Homo sapiens: one gene and its partners. The protein of the gene in region 1 purifies or fractionates together with the protein of each later gene. This does not show direct contact. Each region holds a gene or a part of one and is shown in the gene's direction. Other genes may lie near its edges. The genes, in order: RAB8B, MICALL1, MOCS1, RADX, ZNF280C, BLTP3B and MICALL2.

The links.
Region 2: the proteins of RAB8B (region 1) and MICALL1 purify together in Homo sapiens (affinity purification with mass spectrometry; 2 studies listed by BioGRID and IntAct, with this or other methods). This does not show direct contact.
Region 3: the proteins of RAB8B (region 1) and MOCS1 purify together in Homo sapiens (affinity purification with mass spectrometry; 2 studies listed by BioGRID and IntAct, with this or other methods). This does not show direct contact.
Region 4: the proteins of RAB8B (region 1) and RADX purify together in Homo sapiens (affinity purification with mass spectrometry; one large-scale study listed by BioGRID and IntAct). This does not show direct contact.
Region 5: the proteins of RAB8B (region 1) and ZNF280C purify together in Homo sapiens (affinity purification with mass spectrometry; one large-scale study listed by BioGRID and IntAct). This does not show direct contact.
Region 6: the proteins of RAB8B (region 1) and BLTP3B purify together in Homo sapiens (affinity purification with mass spectrometry; 2 studies listed by BioGRID and IntAct, with this or other methods). This does not show direct contact.
Region 7: the proteins of RAB8B (region 1) and MICALL2 purify together in Homo sapiens (affinity purification with mass spectrometry; 2 studies listed by BioGRID and IntAct, with this or other methods). This does not show direct contact.

What each region holds. Positions count from the first base shown.
Region 1 is NC_000015.10:63,188,430-63,192,405, forward strand, and holds the start of RAB8B (ras-related protein Rab-8B), read left to right. Parts: upstream 1-1,176; 5' UTR 1,177-1,195; coding exon 1,196-1,319; intron 1,320-3,976. UniProt on the Homo sapiens protein: The small GTPases Rab are key regulators of intracellular membrane trafficking, from the formation of transport vesicles to their fusion with membranes.
Region 2 is NC_000022.11:37,926,797-37,930,296, forward strand, and holds part of MICALL1 (MICAL-like protein 1), read left to right. Parts: exon of another isoform or gene 1-143; intron 144-159; coding exon of another isoform or gene 160-330; intron 331-614; coding exon 615-1,030; intron 1,031-3,500. UniProt on the Homo sapiens protein: Lipid-binding protein with higher affinity for phosphatidic acid, a lipid enriched in recycling endosome membranes. On endosome membranes, acts as a downstream effector of Rab proteins recruiting cytosolic proteins to regulate membrane tubulation.
Region 3 is NC_000006.12:39,910,463-39,913,962, reverse strand, and holds part of MOCS1 (molybdenum cofactor biosynthesis protein 1), read left to right. Parts: intron 1-127; coding exon 128-189; intron 190-534; coding exon 535-646; intron 647-958; coding exon 959-1,071; intron 1,072-1,588; coding exon 1,589-1,699; intron 1,700-3,500. UniProt on the Homo sapiens protein: Isoform MOCS1A and isoform MOCS1B probably form a complex that catalyzes the conversion of 5'-GTP to cyclic pyranopterin monophosphate (cPMP).
Region 4 is NC_000023.11:106,610,797-106,614,777, forward strand, and holds the start of RADX (RPA-related protein RADX), read left to right. Parts: upstream 1-1,181; 5' UTR 1,182-1,284; coding exon 1,285-1,927; intron 1,928-3,981.
Region 5 is NC_000023.11:130,202,900-130,206,399, reverse strand, and holds part of ZNF280C (zinc finger protein 280C), read left to right. Parts: intron 1-984; coding exon 985-1,103; intron 1,104-1,246; coding exon 1,247-1,283; intron 1,284-1,407; coding exon 1,408-1,423; 3' UTR 1,424-3,500. UniProt on the Homo sapiens protein: May function as a transcription factor.
Region 6 is NC_000012.12:100,132,875-100,136,374, reverse strand, and holds part of BLTP3B (bridge-like lipid transfer protein family member 3B), read left to right. Parts: intron 1-3,500. UniProt on the Homo sapiens protein: Tube-forming lipid transport protein which mediates the transfer of lipids between membranes at organelle contact sites. Required for retrograde traffic of vesicle clusters in the early endocytic pathway to the Golgi complex.
Region 7 is NC_000007.14:1,452,971-1,456,470, reverse strand, and holds part of MICALL2 (MICAL-like protein 2), read left to right. Parts: intron 1-1,043; exon of another isoform or gene 1,044-1,142; intron 1,143-3,500. UniProt on the Homo sapiens protein: Effector of small Rab GTPases which is involved in junctional complexes assembly through the regulation of cell adhesion molecules transport to the plasma membrane and actin cytoskeleton reorganization.

The sequences.
Region 1 (3,976 bases):
TTGGGTTTCTGCCACTAGCAAATGAAAGGGGACTGAACAATACATCCACAAAACAGAGAATTAGCCTAAGACAATAAATAATAAAGGATTAACTTGAGTATAACAGAATGCTGTTTCCTCCCTATATTCGTCATCAATTAAGTGAGAGCCTACTGAAGAGTAATGAATATTACCATCACTGCTAACAGTGCCTTATGGGTTTCAAAGAACTTTCACATTTAGTATTTAAGTTTCACTGGAACCCTATGAAGTATCTTGTTTCATATCCATTTTACAGATGAGAAAACTGAAATGTCCAGTGCCTGTGTGACTTGTCACAGCGGTTTTGCAGCAGAGCCAAGACTAAATTCAAATCTTACTCTCTAAATTCCCGTGGCCCGCCTCACAGGATGCTTGCAGTTTCATGGGGCACAGACCTGTAGCACAAGACTTCCCAGATTTAAAAATCCATCCTCCTGCGAGGAGAGGGGAGCGATCAGCGTAGCAGATTCTCTAAATACTCATTGTATTTGGCTCTGGTCTGTGTGGCGTGAAGAAGGGGGCACGAGTGAGGTTCGAGTTAGCATGGTAACCATTCTTTCTCAGCTCTGTGACTGAGGGGCTGCGGGAGGGGGTTATAGTGGTGCTGGGCATGGCCTCGGGGAGAAGCTGGATAATGCCCTCTGCAGATAACCCGTAGGCTGCGCCACAGCAGCGCCAAGGAAAGAAAGCATCTCTGCTCCAGGTCTCGGCGGAAGAGATGCGGGAACTACGGGGCTCTGATTCTGAGGTCCTGGATTTGGAAGGCGTCTGCACACAAAGAAATAACAAAGTTAAGTTCCCGCGGCTCGACCAGCAGAGTACGAAACGGGGCCTCCCTTCCCAGCTCGGGTGGAAACGCCTCCACCCTGTCACCCCGCCCATAGCAGGTCTTTTATCCGCTGGAGCCGCCTGGACAGTCCTCGCGGGGCACGCCCGAGGCTCCCCGGAGGAACTACAAGTCCCATGAAGTCCCGGGGCGCGGGCGGTGATGACGAAGCCCTCGCCGATTGGCCGCACGGGGCGGGGCGCGCAGGCCTTCTCCGAGAGGAGGGGCGGGGCGTGGGGCGGGGCGAGCAGCGGCGGATTGGCGGGCACGCCCCCTCGCCCGCGGCCCCCTCCCCGCCTCTCTCCACCGCCTCCTCTGGCTCCCCGGTCAGAGGGCCGGAGCGAGAAGATGGCGAAGACGTACGATTATCTCTTCAAGCTCCTGCTGATCGGCGACTCGGGGGTAGGCAAGACCTGCCTCCTGTTCCGCTTCTCAGAGGACGCCTTCAACACCACCTTCATCTCCACCATCGGTGAGGGAGGGGCCGCGGCCCGGGACCGGGTAGAGAATTGGGGGGCGGGTACTAGGGGACGGGGAAAGGGCGGGGGGCGCTTGGGAGCCCGGGAGAGGAGACCCCGGGGACTGCAAGGTGGCGGGGGCACTGAGAGGGGCGAGGGCGTGAGGGAGAGGGGCGAGGGCGTGAGGGAGAGAGGCGAGCGGGAACGTGAGGCTAAGGGCGAAGGGGGAACTTGGGGGCAAAGGAACGGGAAGGGGAACAGAGGAACAAGGACTAGGGGTATTGGGGGAACGAGAGGGTTCGGAGACTGACAGGGAGGGGTCTTTGAGGGACAAAATGTGTTGGGGGGAAGACTCAGGAAATCTCATGTAGAGAGAAGGGGATAGTGGACGTGCCAATGATTAAAAGACAGGAGAGGAAGGAAATGTGAAGGGGGAAATGAGGGATGGGGGCAATGAGAGGGATGTGAAGTAAAGGGACAGAGGACACAAGGGACAGAGAGGTGAGAACCAGGCAACTGGAAGGGAATTCAGGGGAATGAGCGGTCAGGAGGTGAGGAAGAAGGGGACGGCTGGCCACAGGAGGTCTGGACTGAGATGTCGTAGGAGGGGACAGAAGAAAATTGTAGGTGGAAGAAGAGTTCAAGGGATCAGAGGGCAGAATGAGGATACTTGATGGAGAAAGTAAAGGGATCTGGGTGTGAGACAGAAAGGAAAAGAGGAAGCAACATCATAGTAAAGGGAGGTTGAGCAGAGAAGACAGAGGAGATGGAAAAGAGAGGAAATGGAAAGTAGTGGGGCGCAAGACTTGCTATAGTAACTGATTACCATTTTCTCTTCACTTCCTTTGGATCAAGTGCAGGAGAAAGCAAAATGTGACTAATGATGGAATAATGTCTATAGAGCGTTAATTTGTTCTGTGAGTGTTAATGGATGTTAAGGGAATTGGTGACTTTTGGAAATGATGTGGTCAGGAAAATATGGTTCACCTCTTTACTACCATCTCCTGAGAAGCAAGACTTCTCAGTATTTTAAATCCTTCGGTTTGAATGTTTAACAGCTTCTCAGCCAAGGAAATGAACTTACATTCTACCTGCCTCCCTGTATATTTTGCTTTGGTTCTAATTATTGTTAAGTGAATCACAACATGTGATATACCTCTCAGTTACTTCCAATTGAATCAAGAGTTTTTCTGATCCTGGCTGGGAGCTGTCCTTTCTACTTTTGTACTGGAAGACACTGTGTTCAGGTAATAAGATCTCTTAACTTATCATAAACTGAAGACCAAGTCAAAGCTGGTTTTAAGCTGTTTTAGAAGTGACCACCTTAACATCATTTCTCCTGTTAAATAGTTGCAGGTTAATTAAGTACCTTAAGAATACCTCAGCTTTTGGTTGTGTTGGTGATGTTTCTGGCCTCTAATAGTGGCTTATTTAGTCATCTTTCGTATGGTTCTTACAGCATATTTCACCATGAATTTCTGGGTTGGGAAATAATAGAGAGCTAGTGCTTTGGTAATACGTGTGTTTAAATATTTGTGTATTTTTAAGGATAATTTATCTTTTTTTAAAAAAAGAGTATTTGGTATAGAACACTCTTTAAGTATTAGTAAAGGCTATGGTTTGTTTGCTCATTCTGGATTCTTTCATATAGATTGAATGGTCTAAAATCTCCTGGGTGTTATGATGTCTGGGCTTAGGGAAGTTTGAATTGCAAGTTCTTGGCAGTCAGTCTTGAGTGGGACTTTTTCTTTTCTGAAAAAGCAGATTTTAAATGTCATCTCTCAAGTATATTCCTAAGATTTGGTGGTAGCTGCTGGTACAGCAACTAAAGGGTGTTAATTTTTGACATTTGTATTAATTTCAAAGCCTCAAATAACAATTTTTCATTGTTGAATGCATACTGCAGTACAGATGGTAAAGGATAATTTCTAACAAGTTGAGTGGGTGTCCTTTTGTCCATTCTGTATTTGAGCCTCCCAGAAGTATCTCCTGCCTTGAAAGTAAGTGAATCTCGCTGATGCTGTTTTTGTTAAGCTTCTTGGACGACTTGCTTGTTTGTAATAGTTTTATTCGTTTTCTCTTTTTCCCTTAATTTTTGTCCCATGTTTCCTGTAAGGGTATCTGGTTCCTTTTAAAATAGTAGCTTTTAAAAATTACTTTTCATTTTGAAGGGTTCAAGTCTATCAGTGGATTTCAAAAAATGATGGAAATGAGGTTCTTTGGAGGGTGACAGCTATGAAGGCATGAAAACCAGTGTCCTGAAACAGATTAGAATAGGAAGTGAACATGAAAAGGAGGTGAATCTCATGTGACATCTTGGTCTTTATATTTTCTGTGAGGTGGATGTGGTAAAAAGAGGTGTGAGCTGTGTCTTCAGTTGACGTGGAGGAGGGGAAATCCCATACCTCTTATTTAGCCCCAGAGCTCCAACAGGAAGTGGTAGCACACTGCCTTCAAACTGCAGAATTTATATACACACTGCCTTCAAACTGCAGAATTATATAGAAACCTAATGCTCTGCAGTCAAAATTAAGCTGGGAAAATAAGGTGAATGTTAGCACCATTCTGGTTCCACAGACTCTTCACTGATTACAAGTATAGATTTTGAGTGTTGACATCTCTAGCAGCCACTCCCTCCATGCCCCTCACCTCATTCCCAGGTGATCTGAAG
Region 2 (3,500 bases), on another chromosome or scaffold:
CAGCTGAGGCTGGCCTGTCTGGGTGGAAGTGGTGGGCAGCTTCAGGGGACAGCAGAGGAGCATGAGCTCTGGAGTCAGATACAGTGGATTCAGTCCCACCCCGTGCTGGGGCGAGTGCCCTCTCCTCTCTAAGCCTGTTGCCTCATCTGGAAAATGCAGATAATGTGTTTGGAAGCATCATATCCATCAGCCACGAGGAGATAAATTGGTGCCCGGCAGTGCCTGTCCCAGAGCTGGTGGCTGCGAGGGCTGCGTGCTCCTCCCCTCTGCCTCCGCACTGCAGATCAGGGGCAGAGGAGGGGCCACCTCTCTTCCTCTGGCATTCCCAAGGTGGTTTTGCTGTGGGTGCCCTCATGGGGGCTATGGGGAGTGTGGGGAAGTGGAGGCAGCAGGCAGAACGCAAGGCGGGCGGGTTGGACTCGGGTGGCTGGATGCACCTCATGACTTCCGTCCTGCCGGGCGTTTGCTGTTCCCTGGGCCTTGGCCCTGTCTCGATGTGGAGGGCTTGGGTTTCTGGGGCTGCCTGCGGCTCTGTTGAGAGTGGAGCCGGGAGGTGGGGCTGGAAGCCCTTGTGGTGCTCCCCTTGTGAGGTGTCCTGGTGCTCGTCCGCACAGCTCTCCACGCCTCCCGCCTCTCGCACTCGGAGCCGCCCTCGGCCACACCATCGCCAGCGCTCAGCGTGGAGAGCCTGTCGTCTGAGAGCGCCAGCCAGACTGCAGGTGCAGAGCTTCTGGAGCCGCCAGCTGTGCCCAAGAGCTCCTCAGAGCCTGCTGTCCATGCCCCTGGTACCCCTGGAAACCCTGTCAGCCTCTCTACCAACTCCTCCCTGGCCTCCTCTGGGGAACTAGTGGAGCCTAGAGTGGAACAAATGCCTCAAGCCAGCCCTGGCCTTGCCCCCAGGACCAGGGGCAGCTCAGGTCCCCAGCCAGCCAAGCCCTGCAGTGGCGCCACCCCAACGCCTCTCTTGTTGGTTGGAGACAGGAGCCCGGTGCCTTCCCCTGGAAGCTCGTCCCCACAGCTGCAGGTAAAGGTGAGTGCCCCCTCACCCTCACTAAAAGTGACATCCTCTCTAGTGGATGCGGGTCTGGTCTCAGGGCAGAAATGTCCAGGGCCTTTTCTTAATTTTTTTGAGATGGAGTCTCTCTCTGTCACCCAGGCTGGAGTGCAGTGGCGCGATCTTGGCTCACTGCAAGCTCTGCCTCCTGGGTTCACGCCATTCTCCTGCCTGAGCCCCCAAGTAGCTGGTACTACAGGCGCCCACCACCACGCCCGGCTAATTTTTTGTATTTTTAGTAGAGTGGGGTTTTCACCCCGTTAGCCAGGATGGTCTCGATCTCCTGACCTCGTGATCCGCCTGCCTCAGCCTCCCAAAGTGCTGGGATTACAGGCATGAACCACCATGCTTGGCCTTCTTTTTTATTTTTTTTTGAGACGGAGTCTCGCTCTATCACCCAGCCTGGAGTGCAGTGGTGTGATCTCGGCTCTCTGCAAGCTCCGCCTCCCAGGTTCACACCATTCTTCTGTCTCAGTCTCCCGAGTAGCTGGGACTACAGGCGCCCGCCACCATGCCCAGCTAATTTTTTGTATTTTTAGTAGAGACGGGGTTTCACCGTGTTAGCCAAGATGGTCTCGATCTCCTGACCTCACGATCCACCCGCCTTGGCCTCCCAAAGTGCTGCAATTACAGGCGTGAGCCACTGCCCCCGGCTGTCTAGGGCCTTTTCTATCTTTACTGGCCTCTGACTTCCTGAGTGGCCTTGGCCAGTCTATCTACCCATTACCCACTCTGTCCAATGAGGCACAAACCCGTCTGTCCATGCTTCCATCCATCTGCCAGAGCTCCCACCTATCTATCCACCTGTCCACAAACATAGCCTCCCAGGTCTTATGTATCAGGGCCCCTGTTTGCCTCCCATCCCCTCCACTTGCCTATTTGGGTTCCACTCACCAGCCACCAGTCATCCCGTATTGTCTGTCCGCTCTTCCATTCACTCAGGCTCTACTGATGCCAGACCCTGGGCAGAGTTGTATTAAAACCCTATCCTGGCTGGGCGTGGTGGCTCACACCTGTAATCCCAGCACTTTGGAGGCTGAGGCAGGCAGGTCACTTGAGGATAGGAGTTTGAGACCAGCCTGGCCAACATGGTGAAACCCCATCTCTACTAAAAATACAAAAATTAGCCAGGTGTGGTGGCAGGCACCTGTAATCCTGGCTACTTGGGAGGCTGAGGTAGGAGAATTGCTTGAACCTGGGAGGTGGAGGTTGTAGTGAGCTGAGATGGCCCACAGCCTGGGCAACAGAATGAGACTCTGTCTCAGAAAAAAAAAAGACCCTGTCTTTGGCCTCCAGGGGCTCACGATCTGCTCAGGGAGATAGGCATAATGGGCATTTTGGAAGGTGACCTAGAGTAGAGCACAGAGGGGAGGGATTCACTCCCTTCTGCAGAGACCTGGGTCTCCCCGCCATGGAACAGGGGAGCTGGGGTCTCTGAATGCCTCCCATGTGCATGGCTGCCTGGGCTCCACAGGTCATGTGGACATAGTGGTCCCTGTCCCCAAGGCGCTCCCAGCCAGGTCAGGGGGAGGTGCTATAATGTACATGCTGCTGTGTGTGGAGTTTGTAGTGGGCAGGGGGTCAGCCCTCAACAGGCAGAAGGACCCAGGACACACAGCTTTCTTGGGTGCTTCTGTTGTGTGCCATGAGGGGTGTTTACCGAGGAGAGCAGACGTGGCCCTATCCTGTCCTCCTGCTCCCTTGCTGGGCTCTGTCTTTTCTCAGGTGACATGGGCGTGGGGAGGTTCTGGCTGGGCACCCATCCAGGCTGCTCCTGTTCCAGGTATGCTGTGTGCTGTGGGCTCACCTGTTTCTCAGCCCCATACTGAGAACCTGGGGATTGCCTGGGCTCAGTACTTTCCTCTGGGCACCCAGTTCATGAGGGCCCTGTCTTGCAGCCACAGCGCCTTTGGATGGCCCAACGCTCTGCAGGCCTCTGAGCTCCCAAGGCTCATCTGGCCCCAGGTAGAGGGTGGCAGGACAGCCTTTGTGGGGCAGCTGAAGTTGTAGCCTGACCCTGCCCATGTGCCTCAGGCATCGTTGAACCTTCCCTGGTCCCGGCAAGAGCCTCTTGGGCATTGATTCTGGCTCTGCCTCCCACCTGCTGTGTGTCCTTGAGCAGGCCCCATCCTCCTCTGGGCCTCGGGCTCCCACAGATGGTGAGGGGCTGGCGGCACCAAGTGTCCTGAGTGCTCGAAAGACCCCCTGGTTCCTTGGTGGTGGAGGGCACGGGGGTGGGTCACCTTCGGATTCTCGTGTTTCGTGTCCTGGGCTGCGTGAATATTGGTCTGAAGTTTTGGGGCTGAGAAAAGGCTGAAAACCTTTGAGGGGCTCAGGGGCTTTGGGCTGCTTGGCTCTGCTGGCCCCTCTGGGTGTGTTAGAGGGAGGGGGCAGAACCCCGGGTGCACTTGCTTGTGGGGAACCCCTGTCCCACTGTCACCCCAGG
Region 3 (3,500 bases), on another chromosome or scaffold:
TACTCTGGCCTGTTTTAGAAAACGTTTGCCAATCTCCAGACTAGATGGGCTCTGGTGCTTTTCTGTGGGGGTGTGGGGGAAGAGGAGAGAGGACAGAAGTTCCTGGATCCTTGTTTCTCCCTCCCAGGCTTCCACAAGGTCATGGAGGGCATCCACAAGGCCATCGAGCTGGGCTACAACCCTGTGAAGGTGAGGCCGTGCCCCTGCCGTAGATTCCCGACTTCCCTCCACACTGCCCTGGCCTTCCCCTCACCGCCCCTTGGCCCACTTGAGAGCCCTCAGCTCTGGCCAGCATGGCTGAAGTACGTGCACCCTTCCACCTCTTCTCTCCCTGCTGGTCCAGCCCTGCCGACCCTTGAGAGAAACGAGAAAATCAGTGACCCCAAGGAATCCCGTAACTTAGAGAACTGAGTGGGAGAAGCAAGGAATGGGTCCCTGAGTGGAAGGCCTCAGTGAGTGCCAGGCCCCCAAGGGTCATCTCCACAAAAGAATGCAGGGGGCACAGCCCTCATGGTCCCATTGTTCCCCGGCCAGGTGAACTGTGTGGTGATGCGAGGCCTTAACGAGGATGAACTCCTGGACTTTGCGGCCTTGACTGAGGGCCTCCCCCTGGATGTGCGCTTCATAGAGTATATGCCCTTTGATGGTCAGTGACCAGGGATGGGTTGAGGGAGGGAAGAAGGGGTTGGGCCTGCAGGTCGCATAGTGTGGCTCACCCACTGGGTATGGCTGACCTCAGGGGCAGTGAGTCTAGGATTATGATGGGCTGTTGGTGGCTTCTCGGAGCCCGCTGTGGATGTGATTCAATCCACCAGTTTTAGGCAGAGCCCCCGTCCCTCCCTTCCAAGAGGCTGGAGAACTGATTGCTATGCTGTGGCAGGGGATGGACTCAAAGACCCCGGGGCCCCTTCAACTGTGATTCAGAAGCTCCCCTTGCCTTCCCCCATCCCGAATACAGGCAACAAGTGGAACTTCAAGAAGATGGTCAGCTATAAGGAGATGCTAGACACTGTCCGGCAGCAGTGGCCAGAGCTGGAGAAGGTGCCAGAGGAGGAATCCAGCACAGCCAAGGTTAGGGAGCAGGAGGGTGTGGGGCAGGCCTGGAGGAAGGTCGTACCTCCACCCTAGGATGGAGAGCTAGCAGGGAGCTGCACTGTGGTGGGGATGCTGTGATGTGGGATGGTACCATTTAAGCAGGAAGCATCAGTGCTATCACAACCACCTCCCTGTTTCATGGATGAAGATGTGGGCTCGGCTAGGGTGGGGGGCTCAGTAACATGTCAGAGGACACACTCCAGGAAGTGGCAGAGAGGGGTGCTCATCCCGCTTCCACGCAGACTTTTCTAAACATGCTGCCCACAGGTCCCTGCCTTAGCAGCTTTTATCTAGGGCAAGCCAGGCATAGGTCAACCCATGGGTCATCCATCCTACCAGAGTCTTCTATCACCTGAGGGCCTTGGGTGGAGCTTCACGTGGGGTCCTCTGGGAGAGGGTTGAGGAGTGGAGGTTCTGATGTCATGGAGTGAGAAACTGGGCTCAGTAGCCCATCCCCTCCACTGCCCTTTTGCTCCCACTCTCCCCTGCCCAGGCCTTTAAAATCCCTGGCTTCCAAGGCCAGATCAGCTTCATCACATCCATGTCTGAGCATTTCTGTGGGACCTGCAACCGCCTGCGAATCACAGCTGATGGGAACCTCAAGGTGAGCATCCCCTCCTCCACAGGGACCCCTTGCCACCTCTGTGTTCTCATGTCTCCTCCCACCTGTGCTCCCTGATTGGAGAGGAGGCTGGCAGGGCACGGTGTCGGGGGAGGTGGTTGGTGCAATAATGTCAGGTTTGGGGGCATGATGGGAGCAGCAGGTGAGGGTGAACTCATGGCCCCTCTGGAAATGTCACCCTGATTCCTTCCTTCCTTCTGTGGGGCCCTGAAGTAGCTTCTGGTTTATTGGGAGCTCCTTTCCAGCTCTCATGGAGCTGCAGGATCAATGTGCATTTTGCCTGGCCCCCGCCATGGTTAGCCCCTTCCACCAGGCCAGGGGCTCAGCTCTGAAACCAGAAATGGATGTTACTCATATCTAACAAGCATGTCCTGTGCATTCGTCCCTGTGGGGGATGTCGGGACCCCTTCTCGTCAGGGCTATGCAGACTCACAGGCAAGACCAAACAGAGGCAATGTGTGGCAGCACGAGAGTCCTTGCCACACGCGTGGCTAGATAGCCTGTGAGAGTGCAGGGCATCAAGAGCACTACAGACCTCAGCGAGCCTTGAAGAATGGGTGGGGCAGAAGTGGGGAGGGGAGGGTGCATACATAGGGTTCATACTGGTTGGGCGGGCTAGGGCAGATTAAAGTCAGCTATGGGAAGACTACATTGTAGGGGGCTTTGGTTCAGAATGTGTTCTGTGGACAATAGTGTGCTGCGTAAGGTTCCTGAACAGGGGAGACATCCCCCATGTATGTTTTATAAGCCACAGGCTGGGTGTGATGGCAGGAAGACCAATTAGGTGGCCATTCAGTGGTTCTCCAAATATGTTAGAGTGTGAATTGAAGGGAAGGAAGACTCAGAGAGCTTGGTAATGTTCGCGGAAGGAGAGGAGGAAGGCATCAAGGTAGCTGGAAGGCCTTGGGATCTTTTACAATTGTGGGAGGGTGATGATGGTGGGTTGGGTTTAGATGCATGCAGTTTGAATCCAAAAGGAACCATCCAGCAGGTTGCTGAAAAGCTTGGGGGTTTTTCTGGGCTGGAGATACGGAATTGACTTGGACTAGAGGTGGTATCTGTATCTGTGAGGTCTTGGCAGGAAATGGAAGGTGGGATTCTGAAGAGAATGTAATGAAGAAGCTATTTATAACATATAAGATTAAGGGAACCAATAAAGGATATTGAGGTACTTGGGACCAGCAGCAGCAAAGTGCTGTTCCCACTTAGGAAGGGCAAGGGGGAGGCACTGATGTCACTGGGGCCCAGGAAGGGCTGGAGCCTTAGAAGAGAGGCCACCTCATTGGCACTTGAGCTGTGCAGAGAAGCAGCTGCTGCCAGATACATCAAAGCAGGGAGGAAGTAGGGGAGAAATGCCTGAAGATTGTTCTTTCCCTTTACCCATTGATCTCCCAGGCAGGAGCCAGCTGGGGGGCGGGAGGGGAGGGTGGTACCAGGTGAAGTCCACAGGAGGAACCTCTTTGTTGCAGAGAAGGGAACCTGGAGGCTGGTTGGGGAGCGAGGCATGAGGAATAACAGGCACGCTGAAGCAGTTAGACCTATCCTAGATTTCACTGGTATCTTCTCCAGTGGTCTCTGCCTGCAGAAGCTTCTCAGACATTCTTCTTTCTCTGTGGCCACAGTGCCTTGTGCAGAGCTGGCACAGAGTAGATGCTTCATAAGTTTTGGTGGAAGGATGGTAGGTATATTGATTTCTGGGGCTGTCTCATCCATCCCTCTTACAGAAGCTGAGAAGCATTGAGTGAAGTTTGACCTTAAGTTGTCATGCCCAGCAGCCCTCAGC
Region 4 (3,981 bases), on another chromosome or scaffold:
ATTAACTCCTGTTCCCTCCACTTTATTTCCCCTTACTATGTTTTTTGGTCTCCCTAGCAAGGCTATACCCTGCCCAGACCAGACACTCAAGAAATCTGTATAGAATGAGTAAATTAGTTAAGTATTAATAACGGCAGGGCTCTTTAGCCCAAGCAATGAGAAGAAACTTGAGGGAAGGACCCTGACTACAGTTATCCCCAGTGGCCTAAAACAGTGCCTACCTCATATAGAGACTTCATAAATAGTGAATAAAGAATGATAAAATAGAGAGCCAAAGGAAATTAGTATAAACAAAATCAGCTCATAACCATCTTAAAAAGTATTCTTAGAACAATTACTCCCTTCTATGTATACTGGATCTAAGTACATCTATTAAATATTTTATCCTTAATTTTTACTATTCTTATCAGCTTTTTCACTTTACATTCGTTCCTGATATATGCCTTGCATTAAACAAACAAACATTAAACAAAGTTTCTGAAATCTCTACCCTAGATGTATATTAGGCCAGGTATTATATTAAAACTAGCTGCATTTTAAGAAGTCTAATCTAAAGGCAGCCCTTTACAAGCCAGTTCTAGTTTTCTATTTTCATTTGCACTTAAACACTAATTCACCCACCCTACACTCAGGGAGCCACTACAGATAATTATGCTAATGCTAATCGCAATAGCAGCTAATGTTTACTGAGGACTTTTTGTGCTAGAGTCTGTCCTGGAGGCTCTGCATAAATTATCTGGTTTTGTTCATACTACAGGAAACCCATGTTATAACATTAACATATGTTAACCAACTCTAAATTACTTTCTGTTCCTGGCCCAAAGCCCAAACCCCCAAATCCCTGAGCTTTGACTCTGCACCCTGATTCTTGCCACTTTCTCTTTTCCCTTGCCTCTAGGCATCCTCCTTTCCAGGGGACCACAAGCGCTCTCCCCCTCCCTCTTTGAGAACCATGACAACCACCGATTCCCCCTCCCCTTCCCCTGTCATCCCTCCCCCAGACGGCAACCCGGCGGGCACAAGGTCGGACGACCTGCTACGTAACTCGCGCGTGTGACTGCCTAGTAACAGTGTCTCGAGTCGGAAGCGCTCGGAGCGAGGGGCGGGGTGGGAGAGCTGGCGCGCGCACGCGTAAAGTCTTTGCAGCCTCGCTACGGGGCGGAGTCTTGCCTGTCAGCAGGGGCAGAGTAGCGATCGTCGCCAAAGCGCGCGGTTTTATTTCTCTCCGCTTTGGACGGGGCAAACTAGCTTTTGGGAGTGAAGCGGGTACGCAGTTATCCAACAATGTCTGGTGAGTCAGGACAGCCTGAGGCTGGTCCCTCACATGCAGGGCTAGATTGGCCGAACCCTGAGAGGAATCGGGCTGGGGTCCCGGGAGGGGTGATCCGAAGAGCTGGTTCCCAAGGGCCCAGGTCCTGGATCCAAAAGGTTCTTGAGCAGATTATGGACTCACCTCGCCAGTGTGTCACCCCCTCGGAGGTGGTGCCTGTAACTGTGCTGGCCGTCCAGAGGTACCTGTTAGAGGATGAGCCACGCGACACGGTGCCCAAGCCTCCCCTTTATTGCTATGATGTGACGATCTCAGATGGGGTGTACCAGGAGAAGTGCTACCTGGACCCCAGCTTGAACTCTCTCGTATATCAAAATATTCTTAAAGTTGGCATTCAAATGAGAATTTCCAGGGTCTCATGTCTTTACAATGAGAAAAGGATAGGCCAGGGGATCCTGTGCATAGATAACGTCCACTGTGGGGAGACTTCAGACAGTATTTCTTTAGAAACTCCCTTCAGAAATAGAGCGCACCAGGAGAAACCAGAGAGGCCTTTAAGAGGCGGGAAGAGTCATTACCTGGCGCTGTGGAATAACGAAGATCCCTATGGAGATATCTGGTTAACAGACAAGCAACCTGAGGAACACAACTTTAGCGGTAAGTGTTTGGAAAGAACGGCAGAGGGTTTTAAAAAAAATAGTTTTCAGGAGCTTGCGTGAACGGGAAAGGAAATGAAAATGCTTTTGTATTGTTAATTACAAGCCAGGAGTGGTAGGTAGACAAGTTTTCTTAAATGACCAAGGGATGCTCAATGAAATTTGCACAGCCAGTGGTTTTTGTTGGTGTTTTTTGTTTGTTTGTTTCTTTGATTGCAAAAGTGGCCAATTCAGGAAGTGTGTTTGACTACATCTTAAAATTCAGTCTGGCAAACGTACTGATGTGGGAGTCAGTATTCCTCATACGTTCGTTACATGTTTGATTGTGGTGGAATTAATCTTAGTTTTATTCCCAATCCAGTTGTGGAAATAGTACGTTGTGTCGGTTGAAGAGCTTATAGATTTGAATTTAGCATAAAGGTTGTAAAAATTTGCGGGTTTGCATGTTTTAATCTTCATTCAAAAAGGATGCTCCGTGATGTATTCCTTAATACTTTACATTGATTGAAACGCCGTGTAACAGTTATGTAAATATCACCTTTTAACGGTGTGATTTTTATGGGAAGGCTTGACATTCTCATTTTCTTGTTTCTTATTACTCACCACAAAGAGTACTGATCTGGGAACTTCAATTTTTCTGTATCAGAAGTAGGAAGTTAGCTTGAAAACACTAGCTTGCCATCAGCAACTGCTCTAAAATACGTTTTTTTTCTCTAACAGATGAAATTAAGGGGAATGATAGTACTGTAGGCATGAACACGTTTGAAATGGGGAAAGAAATAAAATGCAAAAAATAAAATAAGAGAAAGTACTGGAAGGAGAAAGACTATAATTTTCTACATTACTGCTTTTCAGTCCCTTTTACAATGTTGTCACAATGCTAAATCACGGATAATCTTACTGTGACGTGTAAGAGCAACAAACTTGAAAGTAAAAGAATAACTAGCTCAAAAACCATGCAATTATAGTCACATCCAGTTGTAAGGAAAAAAGATGTTATAGAAATGTGTAGGTAAGGATATTTTAAATAACTAAATTTTAAAAAGCAAGATAGCTATTTCAGGGATGAAAAAATGGAGTGATTTTATCTCAAGTGTGAAATAAGGCAGTAGTGCATTACTACTCTAAATGTTGATCACTTTAATTTTTAGAATTGAATATGTAAATGAAAAACTGGTGCCCTACAAGAAAAGTTGAGGGGATTAATACTTTGTAAAATGTATTTTGTCGTAATATCTATTCATTCATTAAAACCATATTTATAATACAAAAGGCAATGTCTGTATGCCAAAATAAAACCCAATCTGTATATTTGAAAGTATATTGTGTTAGAAATATACCACCAAAGTATAGTAAAATGTTAGTGATAAAATCTAGGAAGTGGGCATATTGATGTTCACTGTAAAATTTATTCAGTTTTGCTATATGTTTCAAATTGTTAATAATAAAATATTAGGGAGAAGTGAAAGACCTCTTTCACCTTCCCTAGTGCCTTCACCTTTCTTCTAAAAATCTCAAATTGTCAGCAGTTTGTTGTGTATTTTTTTAAAAAAAAGGAATTAATGTCGCATTGTGTGATTTGCTATTTCCACTGAACACATCTCAGGCATCTTTCATGTACATCTGTACATACAATATTCCATAGCATGGGTGTGCCATAATTTCTATAATCATGCCCATGTGAATAGGTAATTTGTAGTTTTAGGCACTTATTAGTGTTTTAGTATTACATACAATGATAAGCATCATTAGAATGTACACATATTTTTGTTTACTATGTTCAAGCATTGCTGTTGAACGGCTTCCTCTGGCGAAATTGCTGGCTTAAAAGGTATTTAATTTTTTTAATTTTGTGGATATAGACAGATCATCTTCTGAAAAGGTTGTACTAATTTACATTTACCAACATACATATGAGAATGCCCATTTCCCCATATCTTACTATTTTTAAATACATCTTTTGACATTTTTCTAATTAATTTATAGGATTCCTTTGCTAATGGGTATTAAAATTTTGTCTGCTATATACTGCAAATTATTTTCTTTCATTCTGTT
Region 5 (3,500 bases), on another chromosome or scaffold:
GCCAGACTCCGTCTCAAAAAAAAAAAAAAAAAAAAAAACTAAAGAAGTCAATCCAAGGTATGCACTGGTTTCCTATAGAGGTGAAATATTTAAGTTTAAAGTATCTGATGAACTTCAAAAGTATATGTATGCTTTGTTAATAAACTGATAATTACAGGATTTTAAAACCTTCACATTTCTTTTCTAATTTTATCCTCATTTGACTAAGATACTAGATTGCAGAATCCACACACTGTACCTTTTTTGTTTACTGTTATATCTACAATACCTAGTAGTACAGTGTGGGTGAAGAAGGTTGTCAGCAAATGAATATTTATATATTTCAGTGAATGAATATTATATCCTTGCTTTGTAAGTAATAACTTGCACACATTACTTAAGTTGTTAAGGGAGACTTGGCTTTGAGTCTCTTGATGCCTAGCTTTCAGCAACAAGTTGAGAGGTGACAATTTATAAAGCACTAAATGTTAGCGTAATTTGAATATGGCGATGCCATTTTCTTTTCCTTTTTTTTTTTTTTTTTTAACATAGTCTCGCAGCTGGAGTGCAGTGGCACAATCTTGGCTCACTGCAACCTCCGCCTCCTGGGTTCAAGCAATTCTCCTGTCTCAGCCTCCCAAGTAGCTGAGAGTAGCTGGGGCTACAGACTCACGCCATGATGCCTGACTAATTTTTGTATTTTTAGTAGAGACGAGGTTTCACCATATTGGTCAGGCTGGTCTCGAACTCCTGACCCCAGGTGATCCATCCACCTCTGCCTCCCAAAGTGCTGGGATTACAGGCATGAGCCACCGTGCCTGGCCAGCGATGCCATTTTCTAGAGAACTATTTTAAATATATCAAGTTTATATAACAAAATTGGAAAATGACGGTTGTGGAGACTAAAATGCAAATCAAGTTAGTACATGGAAAAGTAATTATTGAGCTCATATGGATTTTCATAAATGATAAGAATATTTCTTACTGTCTTCTTTTTTTTCATAGGGGCATTACTCTAGTGTGCCTTAAATGTGATTTCCTAGCTGATTCTTCCGGCTTAGATCGTATGGCTAAACACTTAAGTCAACGTAAAACTCATACTTGCCAAGTTATAATAGAGAATGGTACGTATATATAATTGTGTTTCTTTGATTTTCTGATATTTATTTCAGTACTTTTGATCGGACACCATATGGACCCATGTATTAAATTGATAGTCTCACTCTTCATATATGCTATTGTAAATGTAAAACTCTTTTGATTTCAGTTTCCAAAAGTACCTCAACTTCTGAACCCACTACTGGGTAAGTTTAATTTTCCTTCAGTGCATTTTGCTTTGATGGACTTTAGCACTGTTGTATTTTTTAATGAATCATTAATATTAATATAAATGAAAAATATTAAAGTTTTTTTTTTTTTTTCTTAAAGCTGCTCATTGAAATAGATTCCTGCTCCATGGAGTTCATGCAACCTGGTGCAAGACAAGTTGGAAGTTCCTAAGTTCAAAGTTCTGAAGTATTTTCTCACACAAAGGGCAGTTAAACAGCCAAGTTTATGACACTAGCTCTCATTATTCAGCTCTTTTCAGCTTTCAGATGCCACTACATTGTTATTCCACCTTATCTTTGCGTCAGGTTAACATATCTTAACATATTTTTTTCTCCAGTTGGCTCTCTCCAAAAATGCCTTTTGTTTTTCTCTGCTATACTTGACTTGCCTTCAGAATATTACATTCCAGATAATATGACTGTTCATCTTTTTCTGTCTGTTTTGTCTGCTTTCTTAATTTCTTATAAGTCTTACATGTTTAGGTCAGATAACCATTTTTTCTTCATTCCTTGTTCATTACTGTTCTATTTTTCATATTTTTCAAATGAAGAAGCAACACATAAGTTTCAAAAAATATCCAGGGTACTCCTGGACAGTGTCCCCTTTTGATGGACACAACTGATACCTGTTCTTTCTTTCCAAGAAATGTGAATTATTTGACTGTGAGACGTCCTCTAGTTTGTGGCCTTCAGAAATCAGATCTTGGGGAGAGTCCCTTCCTACCTGACTGACCTCCCATAAGGCTGATGCTGATTTGGCCAGAGATGACCTCAAGGCCCACCAAATAGAGCACAACTTCCCATTGGGAGCTTTGGCTTTTGATCTTAAGCTTATGGGTCGATTCTAACCAAGAAAAGTCCATGAGATCAGTGCTTCAACATCCAGGTTGACGTTTAACCATTTTGGCTGCTGCTCTTTAATTTTCCTCTAGCAGGCATGCAGTCCAAGGAATATCAAAATTCTGATTGTATGGGAACCAAGGTTACTTTCTTGTTCTTGGATAAAGAAAATTTCTACAATTACAGTTCCCAAAGACACAGTTGTTCATGTTATTTAAAGTTTTATCCAGTATTCTAGGAATTTTCAGCAATACTAATATTCTCATTTTTAAACATTTTTTACATTTTATTTTGTTTTATTTTGGTAGCTTGGTTTTATATTGTTTTTAGATCAGTGCTTCAACATCCAGGCTGACGTTTAGCCATTTTGGCTGCTGTTCTTTAATCTTCCTCTAGCAGGCATGCAGTCCAAGGAATATCAAAATTCTGGTTGTATTGGGAACCAAGGTTACTTTCTTGTTTTTGGAAAAACAAAATTTCTACAATTACAGTTCCCAAAGTCAGTTATTCATGTTTTCATTTAAAGTTTTATCCAATATTCTAGGAATTTTCAGCAATACTGATATTCACTTTATTTTTTTTCTTTTTTTAAGACAGAGTCTTGCTCTGTCACCCAGGCTGGAGTGCAGTGGCGCGATCTTGGCTCACTGCAAGCTCCGCCTCCTGGGTTCACGCCATTCTCCTGCCTCAGTCTCCCAAGTACCTGGGATGACAGGCGCCTGCCACCACGCCCGGCTAATTTTTAATTTTTTGTATTTTTAGTAGAGACAGGGTTTCACCATGTTAGCCAGGATGGTCTCGATCTCCTGACGTCGTGATCAGTCCGCCTCGTCCTCCCAAAGTGCTGGGATTACAGGTGTGAGCCACTGCACCCGACCGATACTCACATTTTTAAACTTTTTTTTTAATTTTATTTTGGTAGCTAGGTTTTATATTGTTCTTAAATTTATTTTACTCTATTTTATTTTTCCATCACTTCTTTGTCCCAGATTCATGAAATTTGCTGATGTCCATTTTATGTCTACTTTTGAACTCTTCTCTTTGTGTTTGTTTTGTTCTTATTACAAACTCCAAGACATTTCTTAGAATTGTCTACAGATTTCGTGTAGCTACTTATTGGTAGCTTCTTAATTTCATACTTGTCCAGACCATTAGACATTATTACATGCTCTGTCTTGGGCCTATCATTAACATTAGCTTAGGGATTCTGATTTCAAAGACATAAAGAATTGGCAAAACTCTTCTTACAGAACTTAAAACAAGTTTTAAAGTTACATTTCTATACATCTAATACATAATACCTTCTTAGCCATTAATGTAATTCCTCTGGATAAAGATAATATATTCAAAAAA
Region 6 (3,500 bases), on another chromosome or scaffold:
GTCTGGCATTGCGGGTGATGTGAAAAAGGAAGAAAAAAATAAAAAAAATTTTATTGCTATATGAAATTTGTTAGATTTTGCAACTAGGAAAAAAACTGATTTAAATATTGTTTTTTGGATTATAAATTTACTTGAGTAGGTTTGAGGTGTTTTTTTTTTTTTTTGAGACAGAGTCTCGCTATGTTGCCCAGGCTGGAGTACAATGGAGCAATCTCAGCTCACTGCAACCTCTGCCTCCTGGGTTCAAGCAATACTCCTGCCCTAGCCTCCTGAGTAGCTGGGATTACAGACATGCACCACCACACCCAGCTAATTTTTGTATTTTTAGTAGAGACGGGGTTTCACCATGTTGGCCAGGCTGTTCTCGAACTCCTGACCTTGTGATCCACCCACTTTGGCCTCCCAAAGTGCTGGGATTACAGGCATGAGCCACCGTGCCTGGCTGACAGTATTCACTTTTAAATAATCTCTAATAATGTGGATTTTGACACTGTATGTACTAGTTGCTTATTTAAAATAATTTAATGAGTGCCTGCCTTGTACCAAATATTGTACCATACTGCTGGGGATGTAGCAGTTAACACACTAGGCAAAGATCCCTGCCCTCGTGGAGTTTACGTTTTAATCAGAAACAGATAGTAAGTACATAAATAGGTGAAATACTGTGTAAGTACAGTATATCAGTGTGTTAAATGCTACTGAAAAAGTAACATAGGGAAAGGGGATGAGAAGTACAATAAATTGGGGATGGAGTTTGCAATTTTAAATCTGGTGATTGGGAAGGCTTAATTGACAAAGCAATATTTGAGGCCGGGTGTGGTGTCTCACCTGTAATCCCAGCACTTTGGGAGGCTGAGGCGGGCAGATCACTTCAGGCCAGGAGTTTGAGACCAGCCTGGCCAACATGGTGAAATCCTGTCTGTACTAAAAATACCAAAATTGGCCGAGCGTGGTGGTGCGCACCTGTAGTCTCAGCTACTAGAGAGGCTGAGATGGGAGAATTGCTTGAGCCCAGGAGGCAGAGGTTGCAGTGAACTGTGATAGCACCACTACACTCCAGCCTGCAGAGTGAGACCCTGTCTCAAAAAAAAAAGAAAGAAAGAAAAAAAAGAAAGCAATATTTGAGAAGAGACCTGAGAGAGATAGTGGGAACAAATGCAAAGGGTCCAGAACTGGGAACTTGTTTGATATTTTGAAAACATACGAAGACCACCAATATAGGTGGAGAGAGTAAAGTGAGAAGAGGAAGATGCGATCAAAGAGAAAACAAGGGCCAGATCATGTGGGACCTTGTAGTGACTTTGACTTTTACTCTGAGATTGGAAGCCACTGGAATGCCTTGAGCCAAGGATCACTCTGGCAGCCATGTGGGAATTAAATAATAGAAGCACAAGGGCAGAAACAGGAACCCAATTAAGAGATGTTAACTATTTAGGTGAGAGAGAAATTGGATTGAACGAAGGCAGATGCAGTGGAGTTGTTGAGATAGTGATAGTCAGGTTCTAGGTGTATTTTGAAGGTAAAGGCAGGATTGACCGACAGGTAAGATGTGGATTGATAGAGAAGAGAGGAGAGCAGTAATGGGTGACCATCCAGAGTTTTTGACATAAGCAACATAAGCAATGGAAAAGGTGGAATTGCTATTAACTAAATCGGAAAATTGGAGAAGACTGCAGGAGGAGCAGGCTTATGGGAGAAGATCAGGAGTTTGTTTTGGATATGTTAAGTTGGATGAAAGTTCGATTTTTTTTTTTTTTTGAGACAGAGTCTCGTTCTGTTGCCCAGGCTGGAGTGCAGTGGCACAATCTCAGCTCACTGCAACCCCTGCCTTCTGGGTTCAAGTGATTCTCCTGCCTCAGCCTCCCGAGTGGCTGGAATTACAGGCAGCCGCCACCATGTTTGGCTAATTTTTTTTTACATTTTTTATTTTTAGTAGAGATGAGGTTTTATCATGTTGGCCAGGCTGGTCTCAAACTCCTGACCTCAAGTGATCCACCTGCCTCAGCTTCCCAAAGTGCTTGGGATTACAGGCCTGAGCCACTGCGCCCAGCCCAAATGTTAGATATTTAATTGGAGATGTCTTCTCTTTTATTTGTGATCTAATTTAGACTATACATGTTTTAGTCTGACAACAATGGAAGTATGTTTGTGGTTATCCTTTGGCTTATGCAATAAACAATTACTGGGAAGCGAATTGTGAGTTGAATTTTCAGGGGTGGATTTTTTGCTATTGTTGTTTTTTTTTATCCTTTTAAGTACATGCACTACAGTAGTCCTCCTCCATGGGCAGCACACTTCAAGACCCCCAGTGGATGCCTGAAACTGCAGATAGTACTGAACGATATGTATATTGTGTTTTTTTCTTTATGTACATCCCTCTGGTAAAGTTTAATTTATAAATTAGTCATGGTCAGAGATTAACAAAAACTAATATGTAATAGAAAAATTGTAACAATATCTGTATATTGTAATAAAAGTTATATGAATGTGATCTCTCTCTTTCTCAAGCTATCGTACTGTACCACAGGTAACTGAGACCGTGGAAAGGGAAATCTTGGGTAAGGGAGGACTACTGTATATAGCAGGTGTCTTTCTCTTTCATATTAATTTCCAACTAAAACCGGATACTGATTCTTGTTGGGTGCTTGGTCTAGGAGATGTTGCAATATTAGCATACTAGAATCCTGGAATCAGAAGGGATTTGTTCCTATCTCAGAGAAGGAAATTATTAAAACATTGACATTTGTGACTTGTCCAAGGTCTCACAGATAGTGTTGAATGGTAAAGTCACTGATCCAGTACCCTTTTCATTGATTTTTCTGTGCTGCCTATTAAGGTGTTTCCTACTCGCCCCCACCCCACCTCAACAGTTTGCTTTTCTTTTTACCCAGTTTTCAACACTACTCTTGTTTTACCATCCTGCTGTAGTATCCCTTAGGAGATTCTTTTATGACTTGAGAATCATTTGACTCTGCGGTCCTTTGAAGTTAGAGGAACATAATGTTTTGACTCAGCATTTCTTGAAAGTTGGGGGATGTCTCAGGCCATTTTATGTTGCTATAAAAGATTATGGGGCTGGGTAATTTATTTTAAAAGACAGGTTTTATTTGTTTATTTATTTATTTATTTTTTTGAGACACAGTCTCACTCTGTTACCCAGGCTGGAGTGCAGTGGTGTGATCTCGGCTCACTGCAAGCTCCGCCTCCCGGGTTCATGCCATTCTCCTGCCTCAGCCTCCCGAGTAGCTGGGACTACAGGCACCCACCACCACCCCCAGCTAAATTTTTTTATTTTTGTAGAGACAGGGTTTCACCGTGTTAGCCAGGATGGTCTCCATCTCCTGACCTCGTGATCTGCCTGCCTTGGCCTCTGAAAGTGCTGGGATTACAGATGTGAGCCACCACGCCCGGCCTATTTATTTATTTTTGAGACAGAGTTTACTCTGTTGCTCAGGCTGGAGAATAGTGGCACAATCTCAGCTCACTGTAACCTCCACCTC
Region 7 (3,500 bases), on another chromosome or scaffold:
GGGGTTAAAGGGGTGCACCCCCACACCCAGCCGATTTTCATATTTTTTCTAGAGACGGGGTTTTGCCATGTTGGCCAGGCTGGTGTGTAACTCCTGACCTCAAGTGATCCATCTGCCCTCTTCAGCCTCCCAAAGTTCTGGGGTTATGGGCGCGAGCCACTGCGTCTGGCCTGTGTCTGGCTACTTTCACTCAGCATATTGTTTCTTTTTTAAATTGAGATGGGTTCTGGCTATATTGCCCAGGCTGGTCTTGAACTCCTGGCCTCAAGTAATCCTCCTGCCTCAGCCTCCCGAAGCGCTGGGATTACAGATGTGAGCCGCCGCGCCTGGCCCCTGGCTCTTTGGACGTGCCTGCCTCTGTGCCTTCATCACCCCCATCCCGTGCCCTCAGCCTCTGCTCCCTGCCGTACCTCTGGATGAGGTGGTGGCTGGGGTGGAGGTCTCCTCATGCAGCCCTTGGCTGTCCCTCCTGTCCCCAGTAGTCTTCAGGAAGGGAGGAAACGCGTGTGAGGGACAGGCACAGACCGGTTGTCCTCTCAGGGCAGCTCTGAGGTCAGACTCTGTGTGAGGCCCCGCCCTTGCCACCTCATTCCCCTCTCCTTCCAGTGAAGACCCCTTGACAGCAGAAGGGTGGACGTCCTGTCTCCCTGTCTGTAGCTCTGCCACCAGGAAGTCCTTCCCTTTGTCTGGCCTTAGTCCTTCCTGCTGCACGCAGAGAGCACTTCCGCTTGGCCCTCAGGGAGAGCAGCTGTGAAGGAACCAGCTCGGGCGCCAGGCCAGCCAGGTGGGGCACCCGGGCTCCTGGTTCTGCCTCTGCCCCACCGACCCCGGGTGGAGGGGGCGGGGATCCGGACATTCCTGTGTACCATGTTCCGGCTCCTTGAGCCACGTGTGACCACACTGGGGAGCCCCACAGGTACAGAGAGGTGTCCGTGAATCTCCGCTTTACGGCCAGGAAACAGGATCGCCCAGCCACGCCCACCAGGAGGTGGCAGGGTGGGCGGGTCCCCTGCCTGGTCAGCCTGCCTGTGCCCGCCTGCCCTGTCTCACCTGCGGCTGTGGGTTCTCTGCAGCCAGGCCTCAGGGCGCCTGCCCCCGGGCGCTGTTTCCATACTGGTGTCACAGGGCAGCTGGGCAGCCAGGTGAGCTCAGAAACCACCCAGAACAAACAGCCCCACCTCCCGCCTCACCTCCCTCAGCCAGTCAGCCTGTCGGGGCTGGAGCAGCTCTGCCATGGGCTGGCTCCTTTCATTCCTGGGCCCAAGCAGGTCTCCAGGCACAGCCCTCGGGCAGATGGGGCAGGGGGCACAGCGTGTCTGGGCTGGGAGGGAGCAGGGCTGGAGGGAGGGCAGGCGTTGTGCGTGGCGCAGGAAGCCGTCCAGCAGGTGGGAGAACATTGCGGCCTCCTTCTTGGGGTTCGTGGCTGGGGGCATTTGTCGGATTTGTGGCCAGGCCTTGGGAGGGTGTCGTGAAGTTGGGTCTCTGCTGCACCCTCAGTTCCAAGGCAGGGTCCCTTAAGTTTTCCTGGTCCCTGCAGCTCTGGAGGCGGGCTCAGGGCTGGGCCAGGAAGTGGGGGTGGCTGGGGCGGCCGCTGTGCAGTGCATGGAGCCCTCCAGCAGTGGCTCCCAAGGGTGGCGGGGCTCCCCGAGACACCACTATTGTTGGGGGCCAGGGGAGAGACTCACGCAGAGGCCCCCACCCAGAAGCTCCCAGGCAGTGCCCTCACTTCCTGGGCCAGGGCCGAGGGTGGGCTGACCTCCTCTCCCACGCGGGGTTGGGTCAGCAGGAAGCTGCTTGTGGACAGAGGCCTTCTGTTCCTGCCCCAGGGCCTGTAGCCAGACCTCTGTGGCCGCCTCTGGCCGGAACCCTCCAGGACGGGCGCGGGAGGGGGCTGCCTGTCCACCTACTGCAGGGGGACTGCCCAGGGCCCCACACTTTCCTTCCAGAGGCCCAGTGTGCAAGGTGGGGGCTCTGCGGCCTCCCCTCCCCAGTCGTCACCGCCCCCTGCCCACCCCCTCCTCTCCTGAGCTCTGCCTGGCCATGTCCTCGCTGTCTCTGAGGTTTGCTCCTTCCCCGAGTCCCCTCTCTGCCATCCCGACTGTGCCATCTGGTCCCTGTCTCTCTTGGGCCTCCCTCCACCATCTCCGCTGGGGTCTTCCTCTCTCTCTCCAGCTCTCTCTGTCCGTCCACCTGCCTCTCCCCACTCCCTCTGCTCCCTTCTCCGTGGGATTCTCTCCTGATGTGCTGGATGTGCCTCGGCTGGGGCTCCTTCCCTTCCAAGTCCTGCACCCCCCCGCCCTCCCCACTCCATGGCGGAATCTTGTTCCAGGAAGTAAACAGTGTGATGTCGGCCACCCAGGAATTTGGAGGGGGGTATACATTCCCAAGAGCCCCCAGAGGCGCCGGGGCAGAGGCCGGCTGGACTCCATGGGCTGAAGTTGATGGTCGTGGGTCAGTTAGAGGGGTGGTGGGGGCAGGTGTGGCCGGGCAGGGGCACGCACGGTGGAGAGTTGGCCAGGGCAAATCTTGTGACCGACACACAGACGGCAAATTCATTCCTTCAGCCAGTGTTGAAAGAATAAGTTACTGCCACAGAAATCTCACCAAGCACAGAACAAATGCATCACACGCATTTATAGGGCACCGACTGTGTGCCTGGCCCACGGTGTGTGTCTTGGAGCCGGGCCATGGTATACCTGATTTTAATTCTGAGGCTTCAAATAAGAGAAGATTAAACCCTGGAGGATGCCATGTCTCGGAGGTGGGCAACCTGCAGCCCCCATCCCACAGCCTGCAGGTTTGCAGCGGTGGCTGGGGCTGTGTCCCAGTTCCAGCCGTCTCACCATGGGTAGCTGGTCACTTGCTGAGTGGGGGGAAGCTGATGCATTTTTGTCCGGCAAGGACAGGGGTGTCCACCTGCTCAAGCTGCCCTTGCAAGGTCCCCCAAACGGGCGGTTTCAACAACGGAAAGTGTCCTCCCGCAGTTCTGCAGGCCAACGTCCCGGACGGAGGTGTGAGCAGGGCTGGGCCCTCCTGGGGGCAGGAGGGAGGATCTTCCCGGCCTCTCTCCTTGGCTCTGGGGTGGCCGTCTTCGCCCTGTGCCTTCACATCCTCTTCCCCTGTCAGTTTGTATCTGCATCCACATTTCCCTTTTATGAGGACACCAGCCATGGGACCAGGGCTCCCCGCAAAGAACCCTGTTTGAATTCTCTTATCTCCAAAGGAGGCAAAATGAATTCTCACCTCCAGAAAGACCCTGTCTCCAAATAAGGTCACGTGGTGGAATTGGAGGTTAGGGCTCCAATGTGTCATTTTCTTGGGGGGCTCCTGGAGACACGAGTGGGGTCTCCACCTGGCGATGTTGGTGGGGCTTGCGAGACGGTTCTGGCGGCGATTTCTGCCAGCATCGGGCCCCTGAGCTCAGCTGCTCAGGGGCCCCGGGGGTGTGAGCTCGGGGACAGCAAGGTGCATCTGGGGAGGGCCTGGCGGGTGCATCGGGC